2 linked regions of the Homo sapiens genome follow. Each later gene encodes a partner of the first gene's protein in a complex. Each region holds a gene or a part of one and is shown on either strand. Other genes may lie near its edges.

The links.
Region 2: MMS19 (region 1) and CIAO2A share a complex: the UniProt entries of both Homo sapiens proteins name them as parts of the CIA complex.

Annotation. Positions count from the first base shown.
Region 1 is NC_000010.11:97,460,399-97,467,686, forward strand, and holds part of MMS19 (MMS19 nucleotide excision repair protein homolog), read right to left. Parts: intron 7,206-7,288; exon of another isoform or gene 7,186-7,205; coding exon 7,107-7,185; intron 6,504-7,106; coding exon 6,378-6,503; intron 6,188-6,377; coding exon 6,106-6,187; intron 5,762-6,105; coding exon 5,661-5,761; intron 5,557-5,660; coding exon 5,407-5,556; intron 3,616-5,406; coding exon 3,460-3,615; intron 2,285-3,459; coding exon 2,185-2,284; intron 1,722-2,184; coding exon 1,619-1,721; intron 1,499-1,618; coding exon 1,430-1,498; intron 1,225-1,429; coding exon 1,098-1,224; intron 610-1,097; coding exon 509-609; exon of another isoform or gene 422-508; intron 354-421; coding exon 297-353; intron 1-296. UniProt on the Homo sapiens protein: Key component of the cytosolic iron-sulfur protein assembly (CIA) complex, a multiprotein complex that mediates the incorporation of iron-sulfur cluster into apoproteins specifically involved in DNA metabolism and genomic integrity.
Region 2 is NC_000015.10:64,071,840-64,076,901, forward strand, and holds the end of CIAO2A (cytosolic iron-sulfur assembly component 2A), read right to left. Parts: intron 3,699-5,062; coding exon 3,653-3,698; exon of another isoform or gene 1,190-3,652; coding exon 1,092-1,189; 3' UTR 726-1,091; downstream 1-725. UniProt on the Homo sapiens protein: Component of the cytosolic iron-sulfur protein assembly (CIA) complex, a multiprotein complex that mediates the incorporation of iron-sulfur cluster into extramitochondrial Fe/S proteins.

The sequences.
Region 1 (7,288 bases):
AGTTCTTACAAAAAATACAAACATTAGTTGGGTGTGGTGGGGTGCCCCTGTAGTCCCAGCTACTTGCGAGGCTGAAGTGGGAGGATCACTTGAGCCTACGGAGGTTGAGGCTGGAGTGAGCTGTGATTGCACTACTGTACTCCAGCCTGGGTGACAGAGTAAGACCCTGTCTCCAAAAAGAAAAAAGAAAAGAAAACAAAAAACACACAGGGGAGGATGGAAGTCCTTGGGAGGAATAGGAGCAACCAGAAAGTTTGTTTAGGTCCTGGGTTCTTCTGTCTCCAGAAAGGACGTACCCGGGCTGTAAGGCAGGAGCTGAGAGGATGGTATCTGAGCACTAGGGCCTTTGTTACCTGTAATTGGAGACAGAGAGAGCAATTGGGGAATGACACTCAAACCCGAGAACCCTGAGACATAGATGTTTATGGTTTAGGGTCAAACAGGGACATTTTATTTAACCAGACATAATTGCCTCTCTGGCTAACCAGACTCCACTCCAACTCCTTACCCAGAGAAGAAGAGTGAAGGCCTGACTACGACAGGGCCCAGAGCCCAGGCCAGCCTCCACTTTGTCCACAGCTAGCTGTAGGAATTCATCCAGCTGCTGCCCTAAAAAGGAGAGAGGAAATGCTGACATAAAGGCTACACATTTTCCCTTTAGCAATGAAATGCAAATCACTTTAAGTGCAGAGCTCCCTGAGAAGCTGTTAGAAAGGGAAAATATCATTTTTGCCTGTGGACAAAATGATTGGACACCTGCATAAGAGCCTGGTATTCTCATAATACAGAGGTGCTGCCATTTGAAAAGAGAGGGTCATCTACTTCCAATAAAGAATTATCCACACTAGCCCCACTGTAGGGAGTAGGACGGCAGAACTAGACTCTTTGTGCTCCCTTCTCTTCTTAGGTACTATAAAGCTCTGCCCAACTGTGGTCTTGACGCTTTTCCCACGGGCAGTCCCAGGACAGTGCTTGAGCAGTTGAAGCCCTGTTAATGTTATTAGCAAGCTCCTTTTAAAAAGAGAATGAGTACTGAGCTATAAGATTTCATGGGTAGTTGATTCTGGGAGGCTCCTTACATAGTCTGATCTCAGTACCTGCAGGGTGCTTGTTGAGGAGTCCTGCAAAGCACTTGGCAGCAGCGGTGGAAGAAAAGGGGCAGCTGTGGCAGCAGCTCAGTTCCAAAAGCTCCCGCATGAGTTGGTTCAGCTGAGGGATTTCCACCTACAGAAAACCTGGCCATGTAATGGACCCAGAGAACACTTGAACTCCAAGAGAACCAGTACATAGTGGCAGCAGGGACCGGGACGGATGAGAACTAACTTCTCTGGTGGGGGAAGTAAAAGATCAGCTTAGCCTGTGGCAAATTTCAGCCCGGAGTCACCTTGTCAAGGTTAAATAACAGTACTTCCCAAATGTGCTCACTTACATTTCGAGGCAGGGAGCAGACAAAGGCCATAAGCAGTGCAATCAGCCGCCTCTGCCCTGAGGAGCCATCCTATAAAGGAAGGAGAGCCCGATCAAGCCTGCCAGCAATAAGCTTGTCTGCCCCTCTACCCATTCCAGATTAGCCCTAAAAAAAAACCAGCTTGAAGGATGTAAGTTCTAAGACTGTTACCTGGAATGGCTGGAATCTGCTCGGGAAGCTGTTTTCAGGCAGAAAGGACACGTTGCCATCCAAGAAGAGGGGCACAATGTGTGTCACACTCTGGGCAGCTAACCTGGGGGCAGAGTACTAGGTATGACCAAGGAGCTAGGATTCTAAAGCAGCCCTCTCCTCCACAGACGTGCTTTTCAACCTAGGGTTTGAATTAGGATCACCACGTCAATGGGACATGCCCTGATCATTCATGCATTGAACAAATATTAATTTGGCACATATGTGCCAGTAATCATTTCCATTCAGGTTCCCATCTGGGAAGTCAAGGTATATTTTAAAATGCTCTACAGGTAATTCTTAAGCACATCTGCGGCTAAGAACCACTGGCCCTGGCTTCCCACCCTCATAGTCCATGGTGCTAAGAGCCCCTTCCTTTTGTTTTGTCAACAAAACTTACAAGACGATTAACTGCACCACATTTACATATAGGTAAAAGGACAGCTGACAAGGCAGCTACCTGTTGCTTCTTCCTAAGAATGCTATCCTTCTCCCTGGGTTCAAGCCACATCCATGATTATACTTACTCAGGGCTCAGGTGGGTTGTAGCAGTGCCAATGACAGACACCATGGCAGCCAACACCTCATCCTCCAATAGTACTTTTCTCAGAACTGAGGGCTCCTTCTCTGCAAAACACACACACATGCACACAATCACAAGACCATGACGGGTTCAAGAAATGAATGATTGGGTTCTGTCAGCATCACTGACTCTGGGGCTTGACTCTAGCCACGACAGCAGTTCTTAATCTGGTCTCTGGTAGTGCTATAGTCCTGAGAATCAGGGCACCAGAAACAGGAGTGGTCTGACCTGGGGCCACAGAGCGCTCCTGAGAACTCTGCACAGTCTTTAGACTAGGCCAACAGTGGGAAAGAGGGATAGCTAAGATGAACATTCTTAACATAAGAAATAGAAATGTTGTCCCTGGTGTCCCTGGAGATGCAAGGAAAAAAAAATAGTAATGTTGGTCTCTGAAAAAATTAAAAACATAGATTTATCTTCATGGGTCCTTATTATTTATAGCAACTATCATACACTGAGTACTTCCTATGTGGCAGGTACTATACACTAACTTATTTAATCCTTACCAACTACCCTGTGAAACAGTTTTTTTTTTTTTTTTTTTTGAGACAGGAACAGGATCTCGCTCTGTCACCCAGGCTCGAGTGCAGAGGCACAATCATGCCTCACTGCAGCCTTGAACTCCTGGGCTCAGGTGATCCTCCCACCTCAGCCTCTTGAGCAGCTGGGACTATAGGTGTGCACCACTATGTCTGACTATTTGTAGAAACAGGGTCCCCTGTGTTGCCCAGGCTGGTCTCAAACTCCTGGACTCAAGTGATCCTCCCATCTTGGCCTCCTGAAGTGCTGGGATTACAGGTGTGAACCATGGCGCCAGCCTAGACGGTACTCTTTATCTCCATCTTACAAGTGAGGAAATTGAAGCGTGGAAAGGCTGAATATCTTCACCTAAGTTAGCAAGTGGTAGAGTTGAGGATAAAACCCAACCAGGTGGGCTTGACTCCAGAGTCCAATTCTAAGTAAACTAATCACATAGCACTTCATGGGGAAAAGGTGTGCATTCTTTTGAATGTTGCTAACACTAGTGGATTTTGGTTCCTGCCACTGGTCAGGGTGGCACCCTTTGCTATGAAGTGAAATCTCACTCTGAGGACAAAGGATTGAAAATAAACCTCTGATGGTACAAAATACAGTACCACCAATACCCAGAGGGTGGTGCTGTTCAACACCAGCAGAGGGCAAAGTTCCCAAAGGCCAGGAAGGAGAGGTGGAAAGTTACCTGGCATAGAGGCCTGCACAGCCAAGGCAAGCAGGCAAGGTATAGCTGTCTGGTGGAAATACCAGCAACTCTCAGGGTCCTGCTGACATTTTTCTGCCATCTGTCTGAGGCTCTGACAGACAGCAATAACGTCACTGGATTGTGCAACCATATTCCCTGTTGATGAGAAAGTGTTCTCTGTAAGGTTTGCTTAAAAGCACTTTCAGGTGTTTCCAATTACACAGCAGATGAGAGGAACAAAGAAGAGTGACTGAAGGGACCAAGAGTGCCTTATTAAAAAGCTGAGTCACTTTATTCTCCTGGCTGTTCTTTCTGATCTATTCAGACTTCATAGTTGAGACTTGCTCTGTCCCAGGCTCTGCAGCAGAAGCACTTGTATATATTCTCTCCTTATTTTTCATAACAACCTTAGAAGTATCATTTCCCTCACTCTATAGAGAAGGACATGGAGGCACAATGAAATACATGATCAGTGGCTTTTCCAGGGTCACAGGAAGTGCAAAGTCAGGAATCAAGCCCAAGTTATAATCCAAGTCTAGTATTCATTCTACTATGTAACAGCTGCTGGATCAACCACAGTGGGCCTGAATCTACCCACAGGGCAGGCTGCTGTCACTTTTGCATTGGAGCAGTGCTTCTCAAACTCAACAGTCTACGAGTTACCAGGGTACACTGTCAAAATGCAGATTCTGATCAGTGAGGGCCTGAGATTCTGCACTTCTAACAAGCTCCCAGATGTCACCCATGCTGCTGGTTAACAGACCATCTTTTGAGCACCACGGCCTTAGGGTGATGCCTCTCAATTCAGATCCCACATGAAAATTACCTAGGTAATTTTTTTTTTTTTTTTTGGAGACAGGGCTTCACTCCTGTTGCCCAGGTCAGGCTGGAGTGCAATGGAGCGATCTCGGCTTGCTCCAACCTCTGCCTCCCGGGCTCAAAGTGATTCTCCTGCCTTAGCCTCCCAAGTAGCTGGGACTACAGGTGCATGCCACTGCTCCTGGCTAATTTTTGTATTTTTTGTAGAGATGCGGTTTCGCCATGTTGCATCGGCTGGTTAGGTCTCAAACTCTTGAGCTCAAGTGATCCATCAGCCTTGGCCTCCCAAAGTGCTGGGATTACAGGCATGAGCCACCACACCCAGCCCGGCACTTTTTTTTTTCTTTTTTGAGATGGAGTTTCACCCTGTTTGCCCAGGTGTGAGTGCAATGGCATGATCTTGGCTCACTGCAACCTCCGCCTCCCAGGTTCAAACGATTATCCTGCCTCAGCCTCCTGAGTAGCTGGGATTACAGGCGCCTGCCACCATGACCAGATAATTTTTAGTAGAGACGGGATTGCACCATGTTGGTCAGGCTGGTCTCAAACTCCTGACCTTGTGATCCACCCGCCTCAGCCTCCCAAAGTGCTGGGATTATAGGCATGTGCCACTGCGCCCAACCCTTTTTTTCTTTTGAGATAGAGTTTCACTCTATTGCCCAGGCTGGCCAGGCTGGAGTACAGTGGCGCAATCTCAGCTCGCTGCAACCTCCGCCTTGTGGGTTCAAGAGATTCTCCTGCCTCAGCCTCCCCAGTAGCTGGGATTACAGGCGCATGCCACCATGCCCAGCTAATTTTTTGTATTTTTAGTAGAGACTGGGTTTCTCCATGTTGGCTAAGTTGGTCTCAAATTCCTGACCTCAAGTGATCTGCTGGCCTCGGCCTCCCAAAGTGCTGAGATTACAGGCAAGAGCAGCGGCCCTGGCCGGGTACTCTTAATAGTACTGTTGCCTAAGTCCCATCCCTCCTCAGAGACTGATTCAGTTGGACGCAGGCATCAGTATTTTTTTTTTCTTTTAAAAGAGTTGATTCTGTTACTCTTATGTATAGCTACAGCTAGAACCACTGCCTTAGAGACTACAGCTCCCTATTCAGCCCAGTCCGTTGGTGGTTATTCCTAGTAGTTACCTCTGTTCACTTGCCAGAGATGCTGCAGCAGCAGAGGCAGTGTCTCCTTGACGATGCTGGGATGTGTTGATACAGCTGACAAGGCTTGCAGACAGCACAGATGCCGGGAGCATTGGGTGGGCTCATCTCCGTTAGTCAAATTTGACTCCCCTGAAAGCAACCCATGAGACAAAGGTTTACTGTGTGATAGGAAGCACGAAGGCCCCAAAGCCTTGCTGGAAAGGGATGGGCCACAGAGGATTAGAGACACATACCTACACGCAGCTCCTCAGCGAGCTTGGGTACGAGGTGGCTGCTGAAGGCCACAGGGTAGAGAGCAGCCAGGGTTCCTGATGCTTCCAGTGCTGCCACCCTGCTGGAGGCGCAGAGCAGATAAGCATTGGCTGAGCCTGGGCTCACAGCTCTCTTGCCTACGTCTGATATTAGGCAGATTCAGGAGTGTGAGCTCCCAACGCCTCCTTGCTAAAGAGCAGAACTCAAGTACCTACACCACTGAGTTGGACAGGGCTTCTTAAAGCCTAAGAAGAGAGCAGTCCTACATCTCTCCAACTGGTTAGCAGCCAGAGTCTAACACAGAGCTCACCTCCCCTAAGGAGAGCCAAGGGTCAGAAGCACAGAGCCCTGGTCCTAGCTTGATCTTTTGCTGCCAATACAGAGGCAGGGAACAGCTTGCTCTATCTCATTGCTTTAAATTCTCACCAACTCTGGGAATCCTCCTTCAGGAAGCTCAGTCTGTACAGGTGACCCACTGCCAGCTCCAAGTCCTCATAAGATAGGAGATCTGTAGTTAGAAGGGAACATGAATCTCATCTTTCTTCCCCTGCAGCCATCACAACCCTTCTAAGCTCTTATTAGAAATCCCAAATCATCCAGAGTTGCAGTAAGAAGAGGATAGTAAGGCTGCTTTTCACCAAGGCAGTCTTACAAGAAAAGGACCAATATTTTCCTCTTCTCTTTCCCTTAAGATGTACCTGGCTGGGCACCCAAGACTGTCAGTGTACGGATGCCAACAAGCTGAAGCTGGGTGCTGGGGTCTGTTAGAGCCATGAATACCAGTGAGCACAGCTGGTCCTTGAAGCCATTCAGAGGCCTTTGATCTAGGGAAGAGACAGAGGCCAGGTTAGAAGGAAGCCACTGCATTCCATATCCCTGACTAAGCTGTGATACACAGCCAACCTGGGGTAGATTTTTTTTTTGAGACAAGGCCTCTGTTGCCCAGGCTGGAGTGCAGTGGCGTAATCTCGGATCACTGCAGCCTCTGCCTCCCAGGTTCAAGCCATTCTCCTGCCTCAGCCTCCCGAGTAGCTGGAATTACAGGCATGTGCCAACAGGCCTGGCTAATTTTTGTATTTTTAGTAGAGACAGGGTTTCACCATATTGGCCAGGCTGGTCTCGAACTCCTAACCTCAAGTTTTCCGCCTGCCTTAGCCTACCAAAGTGCTGGGATTATAGGTGTGAGCCACCATGCCCCGCCTCCTGGGGCAGATTTAAAGAGCTTAATCCATTGGGTATCCAGAAAGCACACTGAGAAAAATAAACAGATCTCATCCATCTCATCTGTTAAGTGTTCTCTTGTGCTACAACCTCAGAATAGGACCACTGTTCTAGACTACTTTTCCACAGCACTCTTTGCCCTGCTATCCTTTATAGGCTGAAGTGTTCAACAGTCCCCAGAGCACTGCAATGGAAGGCAACCTCACCTTTGTCTTCATAGCTCCATTTCTGCTGCAGCTTCAAGAAACCCAGGAGCATTTCAAGGATTGTCCGCCGCTGGCTGCTCTGTAACGTTTCAAGGGGTACTAGAGTCAAAGAATATTTTAAAGGATTTCAATCCTGCTACTCTGGATATAGGGAAAATTCTTTCTTTCTTCCAAGAGATGGG
Region 2 (5,062 bases), on another chromosome or scaffold:
CTGATGTATCTTTGTGTCCTTGGCACCCAAGACAGTGCCTGGGTCCAGACTTTGGGAGCTAGGCAGTTCTGCATCAGGAGTTCACTCACATGGTTTGCAAATTGCTGCTGGTTGTTGTTGGGAGGCCTCAGCTGCACTCCGTGTGGAATTCTCCACAGGGTGGCTTGAGTTCTCGTGACATAGCAGCTGGATTCCTACAGAATAAGCAATCCAAGAGCCTAAGGTGAAAACAGCAATACCTTTTATGATCTAGCCTCAGAAGTCACCCATTGTCACTCTGCCATTCTTTATTAGCCACACCCATCAGCTCCAATTCAATATGGAAGTTAACTATACAAGGGCATGAATACCAGGAAGTGAGGATCTTGGGGGCCATGTTGGAGGCTACTATACTTCACATGACCATTAACCCCTAAAACAAACCAAATGAAGGACAGATAAAGTGCGGACCATACATTTAGGTTGGTTTAATCAAAACTTCTTTGGTGGACTTCTTGATCTTCAAAATTGTGTATGCCATCTAGCCTTCTCCACATTTGTTCCTTATCTATGAAAGGGTCCAGGACTCTCCTTGGAAGGAAGGAAGGCCCAATCTTAAGGGTTCCTTTTGGTTCTCAGATCTCTGATTCTACAAAATAATCAGCAAAAATAAAGCTTTGAAGATATCCTTTAGGAGTTGACATTTACACTGGAATTTACAATTCAATAAAAACAGTGAGTCATTATAAGAATCATCTGCTTATTTATTTTACAGAGTAATGATTTAAATTGAGTACATTTGGGCACAGTAGATATTTGACACGAAAAATAGTTGTATCAGAATGAGCATCAGAAAAATAGCAACTCATCTTGCACATAATAACTAGAAAATATTATTCTGTCTGATCATTTAAGTGTTACAAATCCTGAGAATGTTATACATTGAACAAATTAGGTACTACCTTATAATTAAATCTCGCTTGGAAAGAATCCTTTAAAAAATACTCTGAGGTACAAATCACCTATGTATTAAACATGAGTCTCTGACATTATACAAAGAGTTTAAACAAATATATCAAACAATTACAGGCCAGTGGCTCTTAAAACAGCTATCAGTCAGGTTCAAGGACACACTGTTCCACAATTTCCCGTAAGTTGGGGTTTTCCATTGCAGCTGCCACTCGCTCTTTGTCATTTATCTGCTTATTGACTGAAAAATACACAGACAAAAGTTAGCAGAAGAACTGTGTCAATATACAGCACCAGACAGTATTTTTATTAGCCTGCTGAAACAAAAACTTTAACTCCTTGAGAACTTAAACCTGTTTTTGGCTAATTACTCATAATGTAATTTCCCATCTAGAAGGCAGACTTAAGAGAAAAATATCTACTAGAATTCTACTACTTAACCACATCTATTTTTTTCTTTCCAGTCTTTGTCCATACACATATTTTTATACAGTTACATTCAGAGTAAATATAATTTTGAAAATTGCTATTTTTTCCCCCATAAGCCTATATTTTAAACTACAGGGTTATTTAACATGGTAAAAGTCTTAAGTGTTCTAAAGTAATTATGAAGACTATGCTACAATGAATACCTTTAAACATATAGCCTTCTTTTTGGAAATATTCTCAAAAATGGGATTATTTTTAAGAGTATGAATATTTTTATGGTGTGATTCATATCATTGATTTACTTCCTAAAATTACTCACCAGTTTATATTGTCAACACCAATACATGAGCTATCAGTTTGGCAACAATACCTGGTATTATTATCATTGTTATTATTATTCTTTGAGACAGGGTCCTGCTCTGTCATCCAGGCTGGAGTGCAGTGGTGCAATCATAGCTCACTGTAACCTCCAACTCCTGGGCTCAAGAGATCCTCCTACCTCAGCCTCCCACAGGCATGAACCACCACACCTGGCTAATTTTCAAATATTTTCGTAGAGACAGGGTCTCACCATGTTGCCCAGGCTAGTCTTGAAATCCTGGCCTCAAACTCCTTCCCTCAAGGCATTCTCTCGCCTTGGCCTCCCAAAGTGCTAGGGTTACAGGTGTGAACCACCATGCCCGGGCAATAGCTGGTATTATTTAATAAAAACAAATACACATATATACATACATAAAACAGGAGATGGAAAACGGCTCAATATTATTGTCATAATTTGCATTTCCTTGACTAATAGGAAAATAGAACATTTTCCATGTGCATATATTAGTTCTTCTTGCATGAATTTCCTGTTCATGTCTCTATTAATCTACTAGATCTTTTTTTAAAATTAGTTTGAATGGATCTTCATATAATAAAGGTATTGGCCCATTATGTTTTCTGTAATTAGCTAACAGCATTCTTAATAGAAGAGTTCAAAAGAGAGACGACTATATTCTTAATGTGGATTGAGTTTTCTGGGCTGCCGCTGAAATGTCTCATGTAGAAGACACACAAACATACACATATTCCTGCGAAAATACTTTCAATTTGGTTTCTTCCTACTACAATGTAGGCTCCACAAAGGCAGGAATGTATCTCAAAGGCTGAACTGTACCCACACATAGAAGGCACTTAATAAATACTTACTAAATGAAAAACAAGACTCATAAGACTTAATACTATTGCTGCTGTAAAATCCTATCATTCAAGGAATTTCAAAACGATAACCTGAGTGGATTTAGGGTACCTAAACTCTTATTTTTCTAAATTACAGGTAGAAGCCCTCAGCTCGTGGGGTTTAAAGAAATTCAGCCCACAAAGAGTATAATAATCTACATGTCTAGAACTATAAATAGGGCATGGTTTTTAACAGTTTTCATGACAGTACCTAAAAAGTTTCCTGGATAGGCTGTTCCTCTGGAAGCAGCAGGCTTCCCTCTCTATAGCTCTCTTTTATGTAGGAGATTTTGTGTGTCTCTCTCCAGCCCTGTGTATGCCTTTCTGAGTCTTCTTGGTATCTATCTCACTGTTGCTCTTCCTCTATTAGCTCTTTCTTCCATTCCTCTGCTATTTTTTCCCACCTTCTCAATTTACTTAGTGATGAAACTTAAGTACAACATGCCTTTTAAATGTATTTCTCATTATTTGCACTCTATCATTTGTAGATTAAAAACATTAAAATTATGTTTTTAATGTAACACAGGGATCATACAGAACATTTTGTTTTTTGCTTTTCCCAAACCCCACTTCTGCTATTTTTAAGTAGCTACTGATTGATTTCTCTCTGTAGGCCAGAGGTCCTCTATATAAAAAAGGTTCCCCACTCCCATTCTAATATACTAACCCAGAGAGACAGCACCTACCCCAAGATTCACTAAAGCTCTACTTGCTAGACCTTCAATTTCAAGTACACAGCTCTCTATCCTGTCACCAAAGAAAAGAAGCCTACTTAGAGCTCATAAGTCAAGGTCCCCAGCACTGGATATTCTTTACAGATGTGTAGCCACTGGCCTAAACCAGTCAACATCCGTGGGCTCTAGTGCACTCGGAGTCCACTGCAAAAATTACTTCTTTGAAATGCCTAGGTTTCCTCACCTAGGAAGGAAGAGCCAATAACCAATTGTGCACTTTTTTGAAAGTAACCCAGTAGATTCTTGGCTGGCAGAAGAATCCAGTATCCAAGATAAAATACTATCTGAAGTTGTTTTTCAATTATGTTTCAACATTCACTTACTGTCTTCTTCTGTTGAGTGGGTTCCTTCAGAAATGTAGATTTCCAACTGGAAAGTGGGAAAAAAAGTAAAAGAAAAAACATTAATGCATTCTAAGATAAGAGAGTGAAGTGGAATGTACAGTAAATTCAAACATCTAGGGATGAGTGCCCAAATCCTGTTTCTTTTTTTTTTTTTTTGAGATGGAGTCTCACCCTGTTGCCCAGGCTGGAGTGCAGTGGCATGATCTCGGCTCACTGCAACCTCCGCCTCCTGGGTTCAAGCAATTCTCCTACCTCAGCCTCCCAATAGCTGGAATTACAGGCAGACGCCACCACACCCAGCTAAGTTTTGTATTATTATTTTTTTTTTTTAGTAGAGATGGGGTTTCGCCATGTTGGCCAGACTGGTCTCAAACTCCTGACCTCAGGTGATCCGCCTCGGCTTCCCAAAGTGTTGGGATTACAGGCGTGAGCCACTGCGCCCAGCGCCCCCCAAATCCTGTTTCTAACATCAGAGACATAGGGACAAATCCCCCACATCCTTCTCTAAAAAAAAAAAGGACTGAAATGAGTAGGATTTTTTATTTTGTTCACCTGGAAAAGGCCTGCAGGTGGTATTTCCATTAATTTTTTTATGAATACACAAAAATATCATTTTACACAAATGAGATCTCATATGTGTGGTTTTACTTAAGAATATCTCTTTTCTGCACTCTACTTCTTCCCAACTCGGTATCTAAACTTCCTCCTGCCCTGCTACTGACTCAGGAAATCTACAATAACAATCTAGTGTGGTTTCTTCCATATTCTTCTCTTTACCCACATAATCTTACACAGATTTTACACACACACACACCCACATATCAGGGTTGGAAGTTTCTTCACATTGCTTGTTTTACAAAAATGGGATCACAATATAGTTTTCAGCATCCTTCTTTTCTCATTCATTATTATCATGCTAAATTTATTCTCAAGTATAATACTGGTTAAGCTATCCCTCCTGGCCCTGCTGCACCTATAGACATGAGCTACCCTCCAAGACCCAGAGCTTTTAAGACAACCTACAAAATTATTGCAAATCCTGTGGTAAAGAGAGTATGCTGTAATAAAGACGTCTACTTTCCAGAGAACACTGGAACATATGAACTAATTTTTATTTACTTATTTACTACGGAGATAAACATTTCTCATGAGTGAGAAAAATCATAACTTATTATAGTTAAAAGGGACCTTAAAGGTCATCTAGTCCAATCTTTTTTTTTTTTTTTTTTTTGAGACAGGTCTTACTCTGTCGCCTAGGCTGGAGTGCAGTGGCGCGATCATGTCTCACTACAGCCTCGACTTCCTGGGCTCAGGTGATCCTCCCACCTCAGCTCCCACACTCCCACCCCTCTCCTCCCTCGTCTCTATTTTTTTGTAGAGACCGCGTAT